Homo sapiens: one gene and its partners. Changing the gene in region 2 together with the main gene of any one other region gives a genetic interaction. Each region holds a gene or a part of one and is shown on either strand. Other genes may lie near its edges.

Region 1 (3,647 bases), on a different chromosome or scaffold from region 2:
CTGAGGGCAGCGGGGACCGTGCGGTCTGCAGGGCTGCGGGGGGAGGGGCTGTGATGATGGGGGCCCAGCCTTCACCCAGCTGCCCTGGGCACAGGGATTGGTCCGGAGATGCCTGGGCTGGTGGACAGACCTTGGGAAGGGAGAGGGCCCTCCTGCCCGAGACTCAGCAGCTCAGATCAGCTGGGGCCCTCTCGGCCACCCTGAAGGGAGCATGTGGGAGTGAAGGCCCGAGGCCAGCAGAGCCGAGAGGTGGAGGGAAACAGTTTCCTGGGGCCATGGTCTGAGCCCCTGGATCCAGCCTTACCTGAAGCCAGCCCCCAGGACTTCCCACTTAAGCCCCTCAAGTCCTGCCAAAGGGGGCGGGCCTCCAGGCCCTGGAAAGGGAGGGCCCTGCCCAGTGGGCTGGCAGGGTGCCTACCTTCTGCAGCTCCAGCCGGTTGTCCTCCTGGATCCTCTTGTTCCGCTCCTTCAGCTCCTTCTCCTCCAGGTGGCTGATCCCCTTCTTCTCCAGGGCCTGGAAGCACCAGGCACACCTGCCCTGAGCACAGACCCGCCCCCTCGCCCCCCTCCTCAGCTCCTTCGTCCAAGAGATTGACCAGGGCCCTTGTTTTGCAGAGAGAGGTGACCTGCCAGCACTGCACGTCTTCCACCCCCTCCTTAACACTCCTGAAACCCAGTGCATCCAATTCAGTGCAGACATGGAGCCCCCACTGGGAGTGAGATGTATGCAAAGGGTAAGAAGGGGCTACCCCAACTCTCAACAGGAGGGCCTCACTCGGGGCCGCCCCAACTCCCAACAGGAGGGCCTTGCTCGGGGCCACCCCAGCCCCCAACAGAAGAGCCTTGCTCGGGGCCTGCTGACTCGCTTTACCCGGGAGTCTGAGTGCTTCGGACGTGAAGGCCACGCCCTCAGCAAGTCAGGGTCCCCCACTGCACGTGGGACAGGGCAGGAACAGTGAGTGGGGGCAGCAGCAGCTCTGAAAGCAAACCTGTGGGGTCATGGGGCCCCGCCCACACAGCGGGGCACAGGGGTGGCCACTGATGGGCTTGTCCCAGCCTGGAGACCCTCAAAGCTGGCTTCTTCCAGCAGCTGTCTGAGAGCCTGGCGCGGAGCCCCCACTTCCCGACCACCTTCCTCAGGCTCCCGGTGCCCCGTCGCCATGAGGGGGTTCCAGGAACCCCTGCCGCCCAGAACTTGCCTCCAGGGACACAGGCTGCCTGGCTGGGGACCACCCCCAGACACCCGGGCCACTCTGTGGTCTATCCAACCCAGCCTGGGGCCGCTTCCACAGGCGTCAACGATGACCACATCTTCCTCCTCCATGGCTGCCCGCCCAGAGCTCACGGTGGTGCCCAGCACACCGCAGGTGCACAGCACATGGTGGCGATGAAGTGCCAGGCAGCAGTGTGTGCCTCAATAAAGAACTCTGGGGGGTCTGGGGAGCAAGGGGCCAGGAAGGGGTCTCTCAAGAGGGGATGTGTCAGTTGAGGCCTGACGGAAGAGAACAGCCGGGGAAGGGGCAGAGCATGTCCAGGCAGGGGCGCGGCAGTGTGAGGGCCCCGAGGCGGAAGGAGCTCGTTGTGTTCTCAGACGACATCGGGCAGAAGCCACCTGGAGACCCCACAGCTCCCAACTGCGCAACCGGCGAGCAGGTGCAGTCGGCCCAGCCCACACGTTGCCTGCTCCACCCCCTCCACAAGTGGATGCTGCTTCAGATGAGCTGTGTCCCCCACAGGCACATCCCCGTCTGAACCCCTGCAGCTGTAATCATGACCCCATGTGAAATGAGGTCTTGGCCAGGTATGGTGGCTGACACCTGTAATCCCAGCATATTGGGAGGCCAAGGCGGGCAGATCACTTGAGGTCAGGAGTTCGAGACCAGCCTGACCAACATGGTTAAACTCTGTCTACTAAAAATACAAAAATTAGCTGAGTGTGGTGGCACCCGCCTGTAATTCCAGCTACTTGGGAGGCTGGGGCAGGGGAATCACTTGAACCCAGGAAGCGGAGGTTGCAGTGAGCCGAGATTGCGCCTTTGCATTCTAGTCTGGGCAACAGAGTGAGACTCCATCTCAAAAAAAAAAAAAAAAAAAAAGTGATGAGGTCTTGCAGACGTAGGTAAGATGAGGTCATCCTGGAGGTGGCGGGCCCTCATCCAATGCCTGGTGTCCTCATGGGAAGAGGAACATTTACACACAGACACACAGAGCAGAAGGCCGTATGGAGACAGAGACGGGAAGGCAGACCGCCACACAACACAGGAACAGGCCGGGTTCTGCGGCTGCAAGCCAGGGAGGGCCCAGGAATCACCGGCCATGACTGGAGCTGGGAGAGGCAGGAGGGGCCTCCCCTCGGCCCCCAGAGGGAGTGGGGTCCTGCCCACACCTGCCCACGCCTTGATTTTGGACTTCTGGACTCCAGAACGAAGAGATGATAAGTTCTGTTGTCTTATGCCACTGGTGTGACTGGTGGCTAAATGGCAGGCGCAGAACGAAAGAACCAGCTCAGACGACAGAGCGCCTGGAACTGTGGAACCCTGTCCTGGGTACATGATGCCAAGAGCTGGCTCTCTAGATAGGTTTCAGGTTGGGCTGGTGTTCGGGGCAAAGAATGGCTGAAGCTTACACCGCAAGAGACACAGTTAATGGCAAGAAAATGACGGTGGGCTGGGCGCAGTGGCTCATGCCTGTAATCCCAGAACTCTGGGAGGCCGAGGTGGGAAAATCACTTGAGCTTAGGAGTTCGAGACCAGCCTGGCCAACATAGTGAGACTCCATCTTTACAAAAAAATAAAAAATTAGCCGGGCATGGTGGTGGTGCCTGTAGTCCCAGCAAGTCAAAACGCTGAGGTAGGAGGATCGCTTGAGGCCAGGAGGTCAAGGCTGCAGTTAGCCACGATCACGCCACTGCACTCCAGCCTGGGTGACAGAGCGAGACCCTGAGTCAAAAAAGAAAGCTGGCCGGGCGTGGTGGCTCACGCCTGTAATCCCAGCACTTTGGGAGGCCAAGGCGGGTGGATCACAAGGTCAGGAGATCGAGACCATCCTGGCTAACATGGTGAAACCCTGTCTCTACTAAAAATACAAAAAATTAGCCGGGCGTGGTAGCGGGCGCCTGTAGCCCCAGCTACTCAGGAGGCTGAGGCAGGAGAATGGCATGAACCCGGGAGGTGGAGCTTGCAGTGAGCCGAGATCACACCACTTCACTCCAGCCTGGGCGACAGAGCGAGACCCTGTGTCAAAAAAGAAAGCTGATAGCGGCAGAAGCTTGCTTATGCGTGTGTGTGTAAAACCAACTCTTGCACGATCAAGGGCAGGCTGGGAGTGTCTCAAGTGTTGGGGTCTCCAGAAACAGTGGAAATGCTACAGGGACAGAGGCCACCACCCGGCGGGGCCCACCTTATTCCAGATGAAGGTGCCCAGCAGGTTGTTGTCTCCGAAGGGGTTGTCGGTGTTGGTGTAGCCCATGTACTCCTCACCCCAGCCCATCTTCTCCCGCTTCTTGCGCTCCTTGGCCTCCTTCTTGGCCAGCCGCCGTGCGCGCTTCTCCTCGGGCGTCTCGAAGGCCTTCATCAGCTCCTCCTGCTGCTTCCGCTCCTCCCGCAGCCGCAGCCGCTCCTGCAGGCTCTGCTGCTGGCTCAGGGCAG
Region 2 (3,647 bases):
CCCAGCCCAAGAGTTTAATTTATTTTTATTTTAATACCCAGCTTTCACAAGGTGAAAATTGAAGAAATACTGGTCTTGTAGATACTTGTTTTCATTCATACTCTATTGTATAAGGAAATAACAGAATATAAAAATAAAGGGAATAAATCCTGAGCAGTCATTCAAAATTTATTAACTCTAGTTGGCAGCAGTCTAGATATATTGGGGAAATGGATTTAATATAGGCAACACAAAATTTGGACTGAAAGTAGAATACAGTTTTATGTAATTGAAAGTGAGAAAAATGGGAGAAACCACTTAAAAAACAAACCCGAAACTCTAGAAAGAACAAGAAGGTATTAGAATAACTATTGGAATTAAGTTATAGTAATTGCTTGTGAAATAAGTGGAATATTATGTCACATTTATGCCTAAATATAAGCAGTGTTAGATTCTTAATATCCTATACGTGAGTATACTTTTATGAATATACTTTTATTATTGATGCAAAGTGTACTGAATGTGTAAAACTTCAAAAAAAATAACATTTTCCAGTTCCTTATGGACTCATTTTAAGGTACTGTGTTATAAATAAGTACCATTTCAGCAGAGAAATTGGTAGAAAATTGTTTGAAGGAATGGTTTTCTTTTGAAAATAAAGCGAGTATTTAATCTGAACCTTAGTTACTGACATAAAGGAGACTAACGAAGAACTGAAGTGCAGACTTGAATTTTAAGCAGTGTGACATGGGGCTTTGGGCAGACCCGCTTGGATTTGATTATTGGCTTTGTCAGTCTGTAAGCTGGACAGTCTGCAAAATGGGGACAGTAATGCCAATCTCACATAGTCCTTAGTGAGGACTAAATGAAACAATATATGTAAGTACCTTGTAAGTACTGTAGTGCTTCTGGAGAGATGCAGGTCCAGGCTGAGCATCCCTACTCAAAATATTCAAAATCTGGGCCAGATTTGCTGGCTCACACCTTTAATCCCAGCACTTTGGGAGGCCAAGATGAGTGGATTGCTTGAGCTTGGGAGTTCAAGAGCAGCCTGGGCAAAATAATGAAACCCTGTCTCTACAAAAATATTAGCCAGGCATGGTGGCGCACATCTGTAGTTCCAGGCTGAGGTAGGAGGATTGCTTGAGCCCAGGGGGCTGAGGCTGCTGTGAGCCATGATCACACCACTGTACTCCAGCCTGGGCAACAGAGCAAGACTGTCTCAAAAAAAAAAAAAAATCAAAATCAAAAATCCTTCAAAATTCAAAACTTTTCGAACTGACATGATGCCACAATTGGAAAATTCTATGCCTGACCTCATGTGACAGGTTGCAGTTAAAACTTTATTTCATGCATAAAATTATTAAAAATACTGGCTGGGTGAGGTGGCTCATAACCAGCAATCCTGGGAGGCCAAGGTGGGAGGATTGCTTGAGTTCAGGAGTTAGAGACTAGCCTGGGCAACACAGCAAGACCTTGTCTCTACTAAAAATCAAAACAATTAGCTTGGTGTGGTGGTGTGTGCCTGTAGTCCCAGCTACTTGGGAGGCCGAGGCAGGAGGATCGTTTGAGCCCGGGGTGTCAAGGCTGCAGTGAGCCATGATTGTGCTCCTGCACTCCAGCCTGGATGACAGAGGGAGACCCTGCCTCAAAAAAGAAAAAAAAAGTTAGTATAAAATTACCTTCAGGCTATGTGTGTAAAGTGTATATGAAATATAAGTGAATTGCGTGTTTAGACTTGTGTCTTATCCCCAGGATACTGCATGATATATATGAAAATATTCCAAAATTCAAAGAAAATCCAGAGTCTGAAACACTTCTGGTCCCAAGCATTTTAGATAAGGGATGCCAACCTCTAATGGCATTCAGGGCATAAGACATTCAGGATGTTAATATGATGTAATAAGCAATGATTTGATGGAGTGGTCATAAAAGAGTGAGACTCATTTTCATGTCTGGATCATGAAATTTGTTAATTTCTGTTGTGTTTTGTAAATTAGTGCACCTACATACTGTATTGAGAGAAGGACTTTAGGATGCTGTTTTTAAGCTATTATGTGAATTGATCTGCTGAGTAACAAGAAACACTTCCAAGTGTTTATATTATCTTTTTTGTGCCTGTAACTGCTCTTTGTTAGAAAAGGGATATTATGTTATCCCCGTCCCCATTTTACAAATGCCGAAACTGAAGCTTAGAGAAGTAATGTAATTATTAATAAAAATATAGAGCTACCGGGCCGGGTGCGGTGGCTCATGCCTGTAATCCCAACACTCTGGGAGGCTGAGGCAGGTGGATCACCTGAGGTCAGGAGTTCGAGACCAGCCTGGCCAACATGGCGAAACCCTGTCTCTACTAAAAATACAAAAATTTGCCAGGCGTGGTGGCACACACACGCCTATAGTCCCAGTTACTCGGGAGGCTGAGGCAGGAGAATTGCTTGAACCCGGGAGTCGGAGGTTGCCATGAGCCAAGATTGCGCCATTGCACTCCAGCCTGGGTGACAAGAGTGAAACTCCATCTCAAAAAATATATATATTTTATATATATATATATATATATATATATATATATATATATATATATATATTTATATATATTATGTATTATATATATTTATAAATTATATATTTATATATTTTGAGATGGAATATATATATACACACACATATATATACACATATGTGTGTGTATATATATATACTTTTTGTATATACGTATAGAGAGAGCGAGAACGCGCATGCGTGAGTAGCAAAACTAGGACTTGACCTTTGTTTTGACTCAGAGTACTGAAAAGCACTATTACTTTTTTTTTGGAGTTGGGGGTCACTTTTCCATGCTGCTCTGGATTTGGATATTGGGACTGGCCCTGTCTTGGGACTGTCATTAATTATGGCCCTTTGCCTTCATTTAAACTTAATGTTTACAGAAAGTTATTATTGATTATATTGTGAGAGTGTTTGATTATAGGTATAGTGTTATGATATGAAGCTTAAGGATTTGATGAAAATACTAATACTCATTGATAATAAAGATTGGTGGTAAGATGGTAAGATGGTTACTCATATTGATAGTGGGAATGTAAATGAGTAAAACTTTTCTGGAAAGCACTTTGGCAGTATTTATTAACAAGCTTTTAAAAAAAGTTATGCATGCCTTTTGAGCTTGTAATTCCATTTCTAGGAATCTTTATTAAAGAAATCAGAGATGTCGAAAGATATTCGTGTTCAAAGATGTTCACTGCAGCAGTATTTAGCAAAAATTAGAACCTTAATGTTCAATAAAAATTAGAGAAATCATGGAAAATTCATAGAATGGAAATAATATACAGTCATCTTAGATGTTTCAGAAGAATTTTAGTGACATACTAATATGCTAACCATATAATAAGTGAAAAAAGGATATGACACTCTATAAAGTATGGTCCCAATTATGTCAAACATGTATGCAAAGAAAAGAAATAGGTGGTGAGATTATAAGACTTGATATTTTTCTCAGTTTTAGAAATGTTCTTTGATAAACAAATTATTTAAAAATAAATCATAGTTTAAAATTGATATTAACAAATATGAGTAGAGTCAGTGACCATCATTTTAACCAATAGTTTTCACTAATGCAGGTGATTGTGAAGTTGTAAATGGATTGTATTTTCAAGTTAGTTTTCACCTCT
Region 3 (2,778 bases), on a different chromosome or scaffold from region 2:
AAAACAAAAGATATGAAGAAGGTAGGTTAGTCTTAAAGATGTTTAGGTTAGACACTAACCACTGCTCAGCAACTCCCTTCAATTTGAGCTGAAGCTTAGAATCCCATTGGGATGATTCATCTATCAATGCTTACTGAGTGGCTATTCTATGTAAAGCATGGTTTAAAGTGCAGGCAAACAGAAGATTCAGTCCTTGCCTTCATGTCTACAGAGCAAAACGTTAAGAAAATCAATATTTACAAATATGGGATAAATGTCTCACATACAGTGATGCTCAGTAAATTCACTGATTGGACAAATCAATATTGTAATAAAAGTGTATACAAAAACCAGGAGACCTTCCCAAAGCATATTTATCCCTTTGCCATAACACAAATGAGCCTGAAAGTTTACTATTTTGTATACCTGTACATAGAAACCACCCTTAGAAGAATAAACAACTAGTAAATGCCATAACAGATAGTAGCTACCAAGATTATACCACAAAAAGGAGAGCGAGAACGACAGTCAGAAAAAAGATTATTACTCATTTTACGTAAAAGAGTATTTTAATTCTTGTCCTTGGAAGCCATAAAGATTATACATGACTTGGAAATGAGACTGTACCAAATGATGGCCAAAGAAGAATCATCCTTTCTACTCCTTCTCTTTCGTCTGGTCACTCAGAAATATAATATTATCTGTAAAAAAGCCAAAATGTAAATATTAATTTCAGAACTCTTTCTCCATCTCATTCAATAATTCTCCTCTAATACATATAACTTTAGTGCTGTTCATTAAAAGGATTTTAGCCATCTTTTCAAAATATTAAATCACTTGCTATGCTCACGAGAGGTATATATACAGTTGGCATAAGTGGAGCTACAAGTTAGGCACTGGCTGCTTTTCGAACAATTCAGATCTTGTTAGAAGAGGTGGGATATTTCTTGTCTTCCAGTCTTCTCAGAAACAATTTCCTGCAAAAGAACTGGTCACAAAATTGGATGCTTGCAATGGTCAGGCAGATTCCACGACACTAGGCAGCACATCCTCAGAGAAAAGGACAAAAGTGTATCACATTCTACACTCTGGGGGTCTAGAGGAAAGAGTAAGAGTCCATATGTGGCCCTGTTAGCAATGACAGGATTTACTTACGTTTTTAACTTTAAAAATTCAAATAGAAGAAATTTTATTTTTAAATTACAATACAGAATAACTTTTTGTTTTTCCTTTGGAGATGGAGTCTCTGTCACCCAGGCTGGAGTGAAGTGGTGCAATCTCAGCTTACTGCAACCTCTGCCTCCTGGGTTCAAGCGATTCTCCTGCCTCAGCCTCTCCAGTAGCTGGGATTATAGGTGTGCACCACCATGCCTGGCTAACTTTTGTATTTTTAATAGAGACAGGGTTTCACCATGTTGGCCAGGCTGGTCTTGAACTCCTGACCTCAAGTGATCTGCCCGCCTTGGCCTCCCAAAGTGCTGGGATTACAGGCATGAGCACCGCACCTGGCCCAGAATAATTTTAATATACCAATTCTTGGGAACATTTTATGAATCAACATCACAGAGTTAGCATTTTTATCCAAAAATATCAGACGTTGCTCTTAAAATGCTGTTCCAGAGGGAGTTAGCTAAAAATAAACAAAAGAACAGAGGCAAGTAGTAGTCATCCTTCAGTATCCATTGGGGGACTGGTTCCAGGACCCCTATAGATACCAAAATCCACAATGCTCAAGTCCCTGATATAAAATGGTATAGTAATCACATATAACCTATGTACTTCCTCTTATATACTTTAAATCATCTTTAGATTACTTACAATATCTAATACAAGGTAAATGCTATGTTAACAGCTGTTACACTGTATTGTTTCACTTGTATTTTTGTTGTTGTTGTATTATTTTTATTGGTTTCTTTTTTTCACATATATTCAATCTGTGCTTGGTTGAATCCACAGATGCAGAAACAAGGGACATGGAGGAATGACTGCATTTCCTTTATAATTCCAAAAGATTCTTGTAACTATAAAATTATCCACCAAGGACTGAATATTTGTTCATGACCATAGTCTTCCAAAAACTAGAATGTTTTGGTCCAGAACGGTTACTTCAGAACAAACTACTCGAATTAATATCACTGTGGAAAAAGCCAAGAGTGCCATCCACTGGTGGTGGTTTTTTAGTTACAGATAGGATCCCTAGGAGAAAAAAAAATCACCAATAAAACAGATCAACCAATAAACTCTATTTTCTTCAATTCAAATGTCACTGAAGAGCTCTTCAATTTTACCATTAGACATAAACCTAAAGTAAACTGACTGTGCTAGTGGAACCTAGTGACAAGGAAAAAAAACAAAACAGCATATCATCTGAAATGCTTCCGTTTGGCTTATTAGTAACAACTCAATAATCCGAACAATCTAAAGTTTGCCCACACTTGTGGTTTATATTGGGACCCACAGGAGGGTAGGAAAATACCTACACTGCTTTTCAAGGTTAATACACTTTCAAAGAAACTTAGCAGTAAGAAACCATGTGAGCATTCTATACAAATTATAAATTATTAATAAGGTATGGTGGTTAAGACATGAACTCTGGAGCAAAGGAAAGAAGAAAGATAAAAGGCAAATCTAAGAGACTTAAGGTAGAAATCATGTAATATAATGTATGAATGTTTATGAAGTTATCAAGGAAATTTGAACACTACGATATTTAGTAAAAAAATTAACAGTAATTTATTAATATTAGGTGTGATAATAGCACGGTAGTTACATTTTCAAAAAGACACCTTATCTTTTAGA
Region 4 (4,235 bases), on a different chromosome or scaffold from region 2:
AACAGCTTGGTGGCATTTTTAATTTGTCATATTCTCACCCCTCCACCCAAGCTCCGTAACAACCATGAAAACCAACAGCCTGCAAACATGATGTAAAGCCTGGCACCAAGTGAAGAGGGTAGAGAGGTTGGAGCTCTTTAAAACACCATTCTGTGAGAAATGTCATCATTTCACCAGTCTGGTACTTCCTGGAAGATGCTATTCACAAAGCTCTCTGTAGTTTACCTGACATGGAGCTCAACTAGTATGAACAGACTTCTCCTAGGAAGCGTTTGTCAAAAAAAAAAAAAAAAAAAAAAAAAAAAAAAAATTCAGAGGTAATTGTTTAACATTATGACTGTCTGATGTGGTAGATAATAGGAATAAGGTGTCCTTAGAGGACTCTGAAAAGCTCAAATATATTCCTGAGAATTTAGAAAGTCATGCAAATAACTAGAACTGTGTACATGCCCAGAGCAATGTATATGCCCAAGAAAGACCTGAGAAGGCCCTAAATTCTCAACTTATGACTAATTTGAAGCTCTGAGCAAGTAAGAAGTGAAGGCTATACATGGAGCTGTAAATTGCATGGCTGAATGTTGAAAGCATGCCCAAAAAAGCATGCAGAGCCTCTCGACAAAGACTGGCAGATTTGTTGGTTTTGGGTTTTAAAGAAACCTCTGTCCAATAAAAGGAAACATAGTCCAATTAAAAAATGGGCAAAGGATTTGAACAGACATTTCTCCAAAAAGATATTCAAATGACCAATAAACATTTGAAAAGATGCTCAACATAATAAGTCGTTAGGGAAATGAAAATCAAAACCACAATGAGGTATCACTTCACACCTACTAGAAAGGGTAATAATTCAAAAGATGGACAATAACAAGTGTTGGCAAGGATGTGGAGAAATTGAAAATCATATCTTGCTGGTGGGAATGTAAAATGATGCAGCCACTTTGGAAAACATCTGGCACATCCTAAAAAGTTGAAGAGTTACCATATGACCTAGCAATTCCACGTCTAGGTATATTCCCTACCTGAGAGAAATGAAAACATACTTCCACACAAAGCGTGTACATAAATGTTCATAGCAGCATTATTCATAATAGTCAAAAATTGAAACAACCCAAATGTTCATCAATTGATAAAATATATCCAAACAATGGAATTATATCCATCAAAAGGAATGAAGTATTGATATATGTTACAATGTGAATGAACCTTAAAAACATTCTAAGTGGAAGAATCCAGTCACAAAAAACCCACGTTGTATTAGTGTGTTAATATGAAATGTGCAGAATAAGCAAATTTACGGGTAGAAGTAGATTAGTGGTTTACCAGGCCAGCATTAAGAGGCAGGAAGAAATGGGAAGTGACTACTATTAGTTATGATGCTTTTTTGGGGGCAATGAAAATGTTCTAAAATTGTGGTGATGGCTCCATAACTAAGAATATACTAATATACGAATATATTAGTATACTAATATCGAATTTGCTAAAAACAACAATTTTTTTTTTTTTTTTTTTTTTTGGAGAGACAGAGGTCTTGCTGGTTTGGAACTCCTGACCTAAAGCGATCCTCCTGTCTTGGCTTCCCCTAACACTGGGATTACAGGTGTGAGCCATCGTGCTTGGCCCAGATACTTCAAATGGGTGAATCTTTTGGAGATTCCTAAAATCCACATTTGATGAATGTGGATTTTTCAAAACTGTGTAAAATATCCATTACCTTTCTAAGATCACTTCTTTCCTTTAGTCTGCTTAAATGGAAAAGCTGGTAATTTCATCTGCGCCAACATTCATACAAAATAAAAATATAGTCTGTATTTAAAAGCAGCTTTTGTTCATATGCTTTAATTATTTCATTTACTAACACATCAAGGCTTGCTGAAGCAAAATAACTGGCCCGTAATCAAAAAGCAAATAAGAGTCATCTGGATTTCAACTCTGGTTGTCTTAAGCCAGCCTCAGCCTGCATTTCATGACATCCTTAGGGAACTCAGTGTGGATATGGATGAAACCATATAAACACGGAAGCTGTTTTCAACGTGCTTTAGAAATTATAACACAGCAATCATTCTGGCTACAATGTGGCAGGCACCGTACTCAACACTTTATTCACAAGGTGTTATTAGTTCATCACAACTCTAAGTATTAAGCTAATTCACAAACTAGAAAGATGAAACAGAAAGATACCAGGAATTCGTGCAGTTAAATGGAATACATCTAGTCCCAATGATCCACAGTATCGTCAAAACATAGCTAAGTTGGGGGCGAGGAAGCAAGCTTAGTAATCATCCAAACTTGGCTTAAAGTGTGGTTCTGACTGAATTCTCTGAGCTTCAATTTACTTAACTGTGAATCAAGGGTAGTAACAATGACCGCGTTCGACGATGGGAAAGACGCCACGCTCACAAGCAGACAGATCCTAGTACACCTGAAATCCAACCGGGAGTGGGGGACAGCGGCGGGGAAGTGGGGGTGTGGAAAAGACTGGTGGAAGAGCTTTTAGGAAAGCTCTCACCCCGTCGCTAGCTCCTTCCTAGCCCGAGTGCCAGCCCTTAACTTCACATTTTACAGATTCCCTCCCAGGTCTTGATCCTGCCAAGGAGGAGGGTCCCACCCCTTGCGGAAGATCCTCCTCACTCCACTCACCAACATGGGGACTCCATAGCCGAGAGTCTTGTTCTTGCGAAAAGCACGCATCACCGCGGGTGCAAACATGAGTGAACTCTTCCATCGGCTCAGAACTCCAAGCGGGCCTAGCGCAGACTCCCAAATCTCAGCAGCTCACGCTCTCACCAAGACGAGTACGTCCTTAACTCACTTCCTTTTCCTTGGTTATTTGGTGCTCGGTCCTTAGTGAATGGTTTCCGCTAGGCAAAAGCAATCGAGCCATCGTAACATACTTGTGCGTCCGCCCAGAAATGTGGGCGTCAGCGTTTTTGGTTCCGTAACGTCGGCGTGCAATTGGGATTTAGAGATTTGAATCGGTTTACGATCACCACCAAATTGATCTGGAAACCAGTACTTCCCACGTTCTGGGTCCTAACTAACGTCTGCTTAGAACACTCCCTTAGGCACATAGCCACTCGATAAAATCAGCTAAGGAAAAAAGTATTTTGAGGCCGGGCGCGGTGGCCTGGGTGGGTGGCCTGTAATCCCAGCACTTTGGGAGGCCGAGGCCGGTAGATCACCTGAGGTCAGGAGTTCTAGATCAGCCTGGTCAACATGGTAAAACCCCGTCTCTATTAAAAAAAAAAAATACAAAAATTAGCCGGGCGTGGTGGCAGGCGCCTGTAATCCCAGCTACTGGGGGGCCGAGGCAGGAGAATCGCTTGAACCCGGGAGGCGGAGGTTGCAATGAGCAGAGATCGCGCCATCGCACTCCAGCCTGGGGAACAAGAGCGAGACTTCGTCTCAAAAAGAAAAAAGAAAAAAAAGTATTTTGAAGCTGGTACTCCAGTCTTTATGGCTATTTGTGGGATGAGGAATTTGCCAGTTTAATGGAGACTTTTAAAAATAAATCGCTTTTGAAAGATTAGGTTGAAATGTAATCAGTGTAGTGTCTCATCAGTCATTACTGAACTTTTAATGCTAATGATTTTACTGTGAGATAACCTGTAATCTTTAGTCATTTATGAATGTCTATTTACCAATGATTCAGCAACCATACAGGCCACCTTTCAGCGTGTCTTTGAAAGGGTTCTAGGAACACAGATAAAAATATATGATCCTTACCTTAAAGACACTGGCGATTTCATGGGCACAGAAACAAACATGTGTGAAGTACTGGGATAGCTTAGGAAGCCGATCCCCCACGTGTCCCATTTACCAGAGTGAATCAGAGTGCAGGTGATGCGGAATATTATCTTCCATGCTATTCCTGAAATATTTCCATCTGTCCCTGCCTCTCTGTTACCACTGAAATGTTCCTTTTTTTAATTCCTTATCATCTTTTCACCTATTAAAGTAGCCTCTTAAGTGGTCTCCAGAAGAGAAGCTCCAGATCTACTGCAGGCTACTCCAGTGAAACTTATCCTTTTGGCTAAGATCAAGTGTAGTATCTGTTCTTAACAGTTTAATATTTGACACATTCTCTATCCAAGGAAAATATGTTAAATGGGTTTTTGAAGCAAGGAGATGGAATAGGAGTTTGCTCCACCACTCTACACATCAACCTGTATTTCAATACCTCCAGAAACCCAGGAACGGTGCATCTCTCCCATCTTATTTACTTCCTTTTGATATTT

The links. A genetic interaction does not mean that the proteins touch.
Region 1: changes in MAPKAP1 (region 2) and CACTIN together harm fitness more than expected from each alone (negative genetic interaction), as found in Homo sapiens cells (one large-scale study listed by BioGRID).
Region 3: changes in MAPKAP1 (region 2) and SSBP1 together harm fitness more than expected from each alone (negative genetic interaction), as found in Homo sapiens cells (one large-scale study listed by BioGRID).
Region 4: changes in MAPKAP1 (region 2) and COX16 together harm fitness more than expected from each alone (negative genetic interaction), as found in Homo sapiens cells (one large-scale study listed by BioGRID).

Annotation. Positions count from the first base shown.
Region 1 is NC_000019.10:3,620,289-3,623,935, forward strand, and holds part of CACTIN (splicing factor Cactin), read right to left. Parts: coding exon 3,400-3,647; intron 515-3,399; coding exon 419-514; intron 1-418. UniProt on the Homo sapiens protein: Plays a role in pre-mRNA splicing by facilitating excision of a subset of introns. Required for the splicing of CDCA5/Sororin, a regulator of sister chromatid cohesion. Involved in the regulation of innate immune response.
Region 2 is NC_000009.12:125,697,209-125,700,855, reverse strand, and holds part of MAPKAP1 (target of rapamycin complex 2 subunit MAPKAP1), read left to right. Parts: intron 1-3,647. UniProt on the Homo sapiens protein: Component of the mechanistic target of rapamycin complex 2 (mTORC2), which transduces signals from growth factors to pathways involved in proliferation, cytoskeletal organization, lipogenesis and anabolic output.
Region 3 is NC_000007.14:141,748,213-141,750,990, reverse strand, and holds the end of SSBP1 (single-stranded DNA-binding protein, mitochondrial precursor), read right to left. Parts: intron 681-2,778; coding exon 637-680; 3' UTR 503-636; downstream 1-502.
Region 4 is NC_000014.9:70,356,882-70,361,116, forward strand, and holds the start of COX16 (cytochrome c oxidase assembly protein COX16 homolog, mitochondrial isoform 1 precursor), read right to left. Parts: upstream 2,803-4,235; 5' UTR 2,707-2,802; coding exon 2,638-2,706; intron 1-2,637.